Regions from separate parts of the Homo sapiens genome. Here region 2 is linked to region 1. Evidence: fine-mapped expression QTL. Tissue or cell type: monocytes after R848. Region 1 holds a variant in brackets; the other region holds the start of a gene. All regions are shown on one strand. Distances are from middle to middle.

Region 1 (4,231 bases):
TGGATAAAATATCCCTTAAGAAAATACTATCTCATGTTGCTCTAAGCAACTTTCTCTTTTCTTTTTTTCTTTCTTTCTTTCTCTCTTTCTTTCTTTCTTTCTTTCTTTCTTTCTTTCTTTCTTTCTTTTCTTTTTCTTTCTTCTTCCTTCCTTTTCTTCCTTTCTTGTTCTTTCTTTCTCTTTCTCTCTCTTTCTTTCTTTTCTTTCTCTTTCTTTCCTCTCTCTCTCTCTCCCCCCGCCCCACCCCCCCGCCTTCCTTCTTTTTTTTTTTTCTTCAAGCTCTCACTTTGTCACCCAGGCTGGAGTGCAGTGGCACGATCTTGGCTTACTGCAACCTCTGCCTCTTGGACTAAGGTGATCCTCCCACCTCAGCCTCCACAGTAGCTGGGATCACAGGTGTGAGCCACCACACCTGGCTAATTTTTAAAAAATAATTATTTGTAGAGACAAAGTCTCACTATATCGCCCAGGCTGATCTCAAGCTCCTGGGCTCAAGCAATCCTCCTGCCTCACCTCCCAAAGTGCTGGGATTACAGGTATGAGCCACCACGTCCAGATTTCTAAGCAACTGTTTTTTTTTGTTGTTGTTGTTTGTTTTTTGTTTTAGACAGAGTCTCGCTCTGTAGCCCAGGCTGGAGTGCAGTGGCATGATCTTGGCTCACTGCCACCTCTGCCTCCCAGGTTCAAGAGATTTTCCTACTTCAACCTCCAGAGTAGCTGGGATTACAGGCACACACCACTACGCCTGGTTAATGTTTGTATTTTTAGTTGAGATGGAGTTTCACCATGTGGGCCAGGCTGGTCTCAAACTTCTGGCCTCAAGTGACTGCCCACGTTGGCCTCCCAAGGGATTATAGGTGTGAGCCACCCTGCCCGGCCCTAAGCAACTTTCTAAAAAATAGTTTAGTGTCCTACGTATCCTGATATCCAGAAGAAGTCAGATGAGGCCAGAATCCCAGTGTTTAGAAAATAATTTGTTTCTTTCTCTCTCTCTCTACTGTTTCGGTAAATTCTCTTTCTGTTTTATGTATCTGTGAATTTTGAGTTTGAGTTCACTCTGTAGCATTTCTGGACCTGGAAGGCTAGAGTGGGACCTGAAGCTCGGTGGCCACAAGAACATTCTGTGGTCTCATGGGTCCCTTATGTTTCCATCCCTTGGCATCATCTCACTCAAACTGCAAACTGGAGCATCCAGTGGGGCTGGCTGGAGCACGTGCAGAAGGCAGAAGATCAAGTCCAGAAAATTAATTAAGGCTGGATCAGAACCAAAACCATGAGCCCATAATTTCAAAGCTGGAAAAGAGTCTGAAATGTATTTAATTAAATTAATTAATTAATTTATTTATTTATTTTGAGACGGAGTCTTGCTCTGTTTCCCAGGCTAGAGTGCAGTGGCTTGATCTCAGCTCACTGCAACCTCTGCCTCCCGGGTTCAAGCGATTCTTCGGCCTCAGCCTCCTGAATAGCTGGGATTACAGGCACGCACCACCATGCGCAGCTAATTTTTGTATTTTTAGTATAGACAGGGTTTTGCCCTATTGGCCAGGCTGGTCTCAAACTCCTGACCTCAGGTGATCCGCCCACCTCGGCCTCCCAAACTACTGGGATTACAGGGATGAACCACTGCCCCCGGCCCTGAAATGTATTTTAATATCAAAGTAAAGCAGAAATGGGGCTGGATACTTAGGCATCAACCTTTTTCTTTCGCTTTCTTTTTTTTTTTTCCTCCTAGATACAGGTTCTCATTCTATTGCCAGGCTGGCGTGCAGCTAAGAGCCCTGGTCTTCAAAGAAAGTTTTCCCTTAAGCAGAAACATGGACTCAGCATCTCCTGGTTAGACTATTAGCTGTCTCTTGGGCAGCAGCCCAATCACAGCTCACTGCAGCCTCCCACTCCTGGGATGAAGTGATCCTCCCACTTCAGCCTTGCAAAGCACTGGGATTCCAGGCATGGGCCACTGTGTCAGGCCCATCATTGCCCTTTTAAAGCAGGGGTGCTCATCTGCTAGGACTTACTCTGAGAATGCCAGAAAGCCTGACTTTGCAAAGAAAGGCAAACTTAGTTTACCAACTGCTGTAAGAGTAAGGAGGGCTGAGGAGCCAGCAACCTAGGGTGGAGTAGCTGATTTGGTTTGGCTGCGTCTCCACCTGAATCTCATCTTGAATTGTAGTTCCCATAATCCCCCCGGTGGGAGGTAATTGAATCATGCAGGTGGTTACCCCCGTGCTGTTCTC[G/T]TGATAGTGAGTTCTCAGGAGATCTGATGGTTTGAAAAGGGGCTTTCCTCCCCTTTTCTCTACACTTCTCCTTGCTGCAACCATATGAAGAAAGACGTGTTTGCTTCCCCTTCTGCCATGACTGTAAATTTCCTGAGGCCTCCCCAGCTATGCTGAACTGTGAGTCAATTAAACCTCTTTCCTTTATAAATGACCCAGTCTTGGATATGTCTTTATTAGCAGCGTGAGAATGAACTAATACAGTAGGGAACAGAAAAAGTACCTCTTCCCCTTATTCTAGGAACTTTCCAGTTTCACATCAAGATAAATCTAGCGCTCTTCACCTCTGAATGTGAATTTCTGTTCTCCTGTCATCTTGGGAGGTGTTAGTATTCAGTCTAGGGAAATTAACAAGTTCTGTAAGAATTAGCTCCTCTGCACACCAAAGTTACTCACATAAAAAGCCCTCAGACTCAGGTATTTAACTTTTGTTCACATCAGAGCTGAGGCTGCTGGGAAAAAAGCCCAAATCAAGGCCTTTTTTGTTTATTAAATTTTGATCAAGAGCCCTTTAATTCGGGATATGCGGCTTTCTCTTATGGCACATACTGTTGCACTTGAAGTGGTTAATTGAGAAAGCTCTGAGCTGCTGCAGCCCAGGAGAGAGTTAATAGTCTATCCAGGAGGTGCTTAGTCCTCATGTCTGCTTAAGGGAACCTCTGCTGAAAACTTCCTCTGAAGACCGAGGCTCTTGCCTGGATTCTTAGATCACTCACAGGCAGAAACTACTTGATAATTTGTGGGACCAGGTGAACAATAAAAATATGGTGCCCTTTATTCAAAAACTACTAAGACTTTCAAGATGGTGATAGCAGAGCATTAGCTAAGTTGGGGGCCTCTCCTAAGTGTGGGGCCCTGTGTGCCTGCACAAGTCACACACCCACGAAGCCAATCCTGCCCACAAGTAATCTTCAAATTCTACAGACTCAAACTAAATGCCAGTTTTTCCTTCCTTGAGCATATTTTTTTTTTCTCCTGTACTTATTACATTTAATGGGACACTATCTACCCAGGAAAAAAGCTTGGGATCATCCCAGATTTCTCTCTCCCCTTCACCCTACCATCCAATTAGTGATGATTCCTGTTAATTTCACCTGGAGAACTTCTTTTGTTATTTAACACATTTCTCACCTTAATCCCCATCCTGGTTCTGACTCTCATGATCTGTCAGTGGTATCTGCCTGCCTGAATCCCCCACAATGATCCCTCTAAACCACTCAGCTGACCACATCACTGCCCTGCTTACAAACCTTCCAAGACTCCTTGGAACCTATGAAATAAAACCCAGATGATTTAGCATGGAGCATGACACCCTCTGCAGCCTGGTTCATCCCCACCGCCTCATACCTGATGCTCCCACAACTCTAAGCGACACAGATTCTGGATGCTCTGTACTGAGTCATGCCACTGTGCCCTCTTATGCTTTCCCTCCTGTCAGAAATGCTGTGCCTGTCTCCCTCATGTTACCTCCTGGAAAGGCTGACTGATGGTCCCCCAAAAATCCAGGTCTCAATCTCTGGAATCTGTGAATGTTACCGTATATAGCAAAAGAGACTTTGCAGCTGTGAAGTGCTTGAAATGGGGAGATGATCCTGGATTACCTGGGTGGACACTAAATACAAGCAGAAGTGTTCTTATGAGAGGGAGACAGAACTCAGACTCCACAGAAGAGGAGAAGATGATGTGGAGCTGGAACAGAGGGAGATTTGCAGATGCTGGCCTTGGAGATGGAGGAAGGGGCCATCAGCCAAGGAGTGCAGCTCTAGAAGCTGGAAAAGGCAAGAAATGCATTCTCCCCTAAAGCCTCCAGGGATGCACAGCCTTGCCAACACTTTGGTTTTAGCCAGTGGACCCATTTAGGCTCTTGACTTGCAGAACTGTAAGAAAATAAATGTGTGTTGCTTTAAGCTACCAAATTTGTGATTCTTTGTATGACACATAGGGAACTAATATACCTC
Region 2 (4,231 bases), 130 kb before region 1:
AATACTTAAGTGCCTGTAAAACATCACCCCCCCAAAAAAAGAGAGAAAGAATTGAAACCTTAAACTCCCTAATTTAAACATAAACTTTGGTGTATTATCATTAAATTTTATGAACTTACAAAATTAAAATTTCCACTTTCAATTCTGCTTTACTCTTTAAAGTTTCTCAGACAAAAAACCTAATGCTTAAGCGTTACAATAAGACTCCTGATAACAAATCACACTAAACACAAAAAAAACCCACTCCATTATCTTATAAACCACCTTGCACACTGATTCTGCAAAAAATAAAAAAATTTGGCTGAGAATATTTAGAATCATTTTTTGATAGTCAAAAGAAAACTAGAAATTCAGTACTACTATAATCAATTTCTGCTCTACAGCTGATATACACAAACACATGTATAAATAAGCACATGCATATTTTTGCAAACCTACCAAAAAAAAAAAAAAAAACCCACACACCAGTTTCTCCAATTCTTTGATTCAAATAAAGCATTTCAGACCTAACTTCCTTACTCTCCCAGGTGTGGGAAACAATTTTAAGGTATAAAAATACTAACCAAAATAAACTAATGTGAGTACTATTTCTAACTAAGCATAATGCGCTCAAAATAATCGTTTAGCTTTATTCTAACACATATCTTAAGACAATCATGATGTACTAATCTGTTGCAATGTGTAATCAGCTATGCTTTGGAGGACAGATTCAGTAAAGTTTAATTTTTGACATATCCAATGTTTTACATATCAGAAGACAGTGTTTTCAAATTCAGCTGTATAACACAACCATCAGGTTAGAAACCTGCTCTCTAGTCCTTTAAGATGTAGAAAGTGTTTTCTGCAGTCATCTGATGGTTAACAATCATTATGAGGTTTCCCTCCTGAAAATTGGGGCCACTTTCATCATAATCCTTAGAACTTCACACACAATGACTGCAGTAACAAAAAGGAACCCACCTACCTAGAACCACCTACATCAGAATGATTATCCAAGTACCCAAAGACCTCAATTCTTACAGAAACAAAAGCACACATATCTTTTACTTGTAAGGCAATTAAGTATACCAAAAATATTAAAAGGGGAAAGGGTAGTACTTTATAACCGACTTGAAAGTTGTAAGTCATTTAGCTATTTACCCAAGTTCTTCACTTAATTTTAATACCTTTACATTAACTTTTCAGTTCCCCCAACACAATAAATAAATAAATAAGCCTCGTAAGTCACCTATCATCTCATCCCATCGATTCCTTCACTCGCAAATAATCAAATAATCGAGTCAGGTCTTTCTGGCTGCAAATGATTCTTTTTTCCTAAATCAGCGAACTCCCTCCAGTCACCTGTCAAAATAAGTCACTAAACCTTGCTGGAGAGCGCTAAAGGAACCAAACCTGGAATTTTAAGGGGATCCGCGGTGCTAGTTTCAGATGTGTTGCACCGAAGGGCCTGTATCGACTTCTGAGGCCTGCGCTCGAGTAGCAGTCCCTCCCTTCCCCCTCCGGCCCCTTCCAATCCCTCCACCCCGGCCTCGGCTGGTACCTGGTAAGGCTGCGAGTCCCCCCTCCGGTCGTGACAGCTGAAAAACAGGAAGAGAAGGCAGCGACATAAGACACGGCGCGGGTGGGGGGCCGGGGAGGAAGAAAACGGGGCCCCCGCCGCCCCTCCCCGCGGGAGACCTACCGAGCGCCCCAGCGCCGAGCCCCGCACGCACACGGCACAAACCCGGAGCCTCCGGAAGGGCCGGAGAGGGCGAAATGCCGCGAAGCCGGGCCCCCGCTCCCCGCCACACTGCGTTCCCGCCCGCCCGCCCGCGCGGCCGCTCCTCCTCCCCAACCCGATCCGGATCAGGGTTAACAACAAAAATGGCGGCCCGGCCAGCTCCAGATAAGGAGGAACAGCCCCCCCGCCGCCGCCCCCCGCCGCCGCCCGGCCCGAAACGAAAAGACAATTTACCCATCACTGAGTCTCTGCTGTTTCCTCGCATACATTACCATCAATGCCCGGCCTGTGAGTGTGTGTCGGGGAGGGGGGAGAGCGGCCGCGAAAGGCGGGCGGGCGCGCAGGCGGCGGCGGCGGCGGGCGGCGGGCAGCCCCGGCACCTGGGCCCGGCGCGCCCTCGGCGACTCTCATCAGCTCCCAGTTACTGGCGCCGGCGCTCCCGGGCCATCTCCCTCCGTCGACACCACGCTCACTCTCAGCCGGGGCAGCGGCGCCAACTACACGGCGGCACCGCGAACCGGGGGGAGGGGGGCAAGACGACGCGTCCGGCTCAGCCCCGCGGAGAGCGACTGCCTCCTCCGCCTTCTCCTCCTCCTGCTCCGCCGCCTCCTCCCCTCCTCCCCCCGCCGCCGCCGCTGCTGCCGCCGCCTGGTCCTTCTTCTCCTCCTCCTCCTCCCGCCGCCGCCGCCGCCGCTGGTGCCGCCGCTGCCGCTCCACCAACTACATCCGGGCAACTCGGACGCTGCCGCCTTCGGGAAACCTCGGCAGTTTCCGCCGGGCCCCTCCTCTCCCACCCTCGGCCTTCCTCCCCGCACCGCGCGGGTCCGGAACACCGCCCTCGGCAAACCTCGGCTGGCTCCGGCCTTTCTCCTCCTCTGAGGCCTGGATCTTCTCTTCGCGACCAGTCTGCCCTTTCCTTCTTTTCCTCACTCGCGAGTCGGCCACCGCCGTTCCCGTTTAGGGATAGTCTCGCTCGGGCGCCTGCTCGAGGCTGATCTCAGGGGCTCCGGGCTGCGCAGGGAGGGAGCCGCCTTCCGGAAGAGGACGGTGGGGCGCGAGGGAAGCCATCGCGGACTAAATAAGGGAGGCTGCAGCGGCTGCGCGTGCGCCCAGAGGCGCAGCGGGAGGGGGTGCTCTCGGGCGAGCTCTCCGGCCGCGGCCCCCGCCCCTGCGCTGTCGGGCGGGGAGGTCGGAAACCCCCTGGCGAGACCACGGGCGGACGCTTCCCGAAGAGCTGCCTGGGCTGCAGCCGCGGAAGCTGCGTTCTGGGGAGCGGGGAGCGTGCTCCGGCGCCTTCGGGCCGCTGCTGGAAGCCGGAACCGAGCCCGGGCCGCTGCCCCTCACCGGACGCCGCGCGCCACCGGCCCTCCGCGGGGCAGGGGCTGCTGCGAGCTCGCCGGGCGCCCTTTAGACGTAAGTCTCACCCTGCGCCCCGAGGCAGGAAGGAGCGCGTGCAGTCCCGGCCAGAAACGGCTAATAGGAAGGGCTGAGGGGTTCTGTGTTCAAGGCAGAAGGCCGTGCGTCAGGGCGGCCCTCAGCGGAGATGCGTGCACGGAGCGGGGAGCGCCGCTCGGGGCAGGGAATGAAAGCGGCGCTTGAGACTGGAAATTTAGGGAGATGAGTTCCTTGGGAACAACGCTGAACCATCTCACTGCCCCACCCTACCCCTTGTTATTTTTTTTTGAGACAGGTCTCGCGCTGTCGTCCAGTCTGAGTGCAGTGACGCGATCACGGCTCACTGCAGCCTCGACCTCCGGGGCTTACGGGTCATCCCACCTCAGCCCTCTAAGTAGCTGGCACCACGGGCATGCACCACCACACCCGGCTAATTTTTTAAAAAAAGTTTTTCCGGAGATAGGGTCTCGCTGTGTTACCCAGGCTGGTCTCGAACCCCTGGCCTGAAGCGATCCTCCCGCCTCGGCCTCCCAAAGTGCTGGGATTACAGGCGTGAGCCACTGCGCTCGGCTTTTCACCCCTTTCTAACGTTTTCCATCCCTTTCTAACGTTTTCCATACCCAGCGGTGCCCTGCCCACCCTCTCTTTATCTCTCACTTTTCCCTCCTCTGTTTCTTCCTCGCTGAAGTCCATTGGTGAAAGAAAATTCATGTGAAAGTTCTCAGGTGTGTTAAGTGAAATTGCTACAAATTTGATTTTATGTACTGCTGCAGGTACATTGAGAGAAGAAACGTGAAGTATACCAAACAACCGTTAGTTGAGAGTGGTGGTATTCGGGTGATTGGTTGACTTTTTTTTTTTTTTTTGCACTATTTGTAAGGCAACATAGTTTAATGAAAAGAATTGTGGTAAACATAATTAGGTGATTAACACAGAAGAGGCAAATAGTAAACAAGTCAGAAGAAACAACCCCCTCCAAAAAATAAAAAGTAACTGATTTACTTGGTATCCAAGAAGTTACGTTATTGCTAGACCTAATAGAATGGAGAGATGGAATGATGTAGGGAGAAAGGCTCTGAAATCACAACTGGTTGGAAAAAAAATTTTAATTACATA

Alleles and levels. Alleles are on the strand shown, and positions count from the first base shown. SD is a standard deviation of normalised expression in the study named.
For the expression in monocytes after R848 of the gene that starts at base 2,457 in region 2, allele G in region 1 goes with a higher level than allele T (moderate effect, 0.60 SD a copy in Quach 2016).

Evidence for each region. PIP is the estimated chance that this variant, and not a neighbour inherited with it, causes the effect.
Region 2: it holds the start of WAC, and the variant in region 1 is the best candidate, but not a certain one, in a credible set for the expression of WAC in monocytes after R848 (Quach 2016, PIP 0.50).

Annotation. Positions count from the first base shown.
Region 1 is chr10:28,400,944-28,405,174 of GRCh38, reverse strand. No RefSeq gene overlaps it. Among named protein-coding and RNA genes, the nearest start is that of LINC02652, 93 kb to the left of the region's middle. The variant G/T (reference allele first, on the strand shown) is at 2,235.
Region 2 is chr10:28,531,344-28,535,574 of GRCh38, reverse strand. WAC (WW domain containing adaptor with coiled-coil) reads right to left here and starts at 2,457. Exons shown (of 14, transcript NM_016628.5): 1 at 1,955-2,457; 2 at 1,541-1,577; 3 at 1-13. The coding sequence starts at 1,995. WAC-AS1 (WAC antisense RNA 1) reads left to right here and starts at 3,221. Exons shown (of 3, transcript NR_033805.1): 1 at 3,221-3,840. RefSeq lists silencers at 1,454-1,703, 1,714-1,823, 1,974-2,053, 2,264-2,413, 2,784-3,203 and enhancers at 2,564-2,753, 2,374-3,057.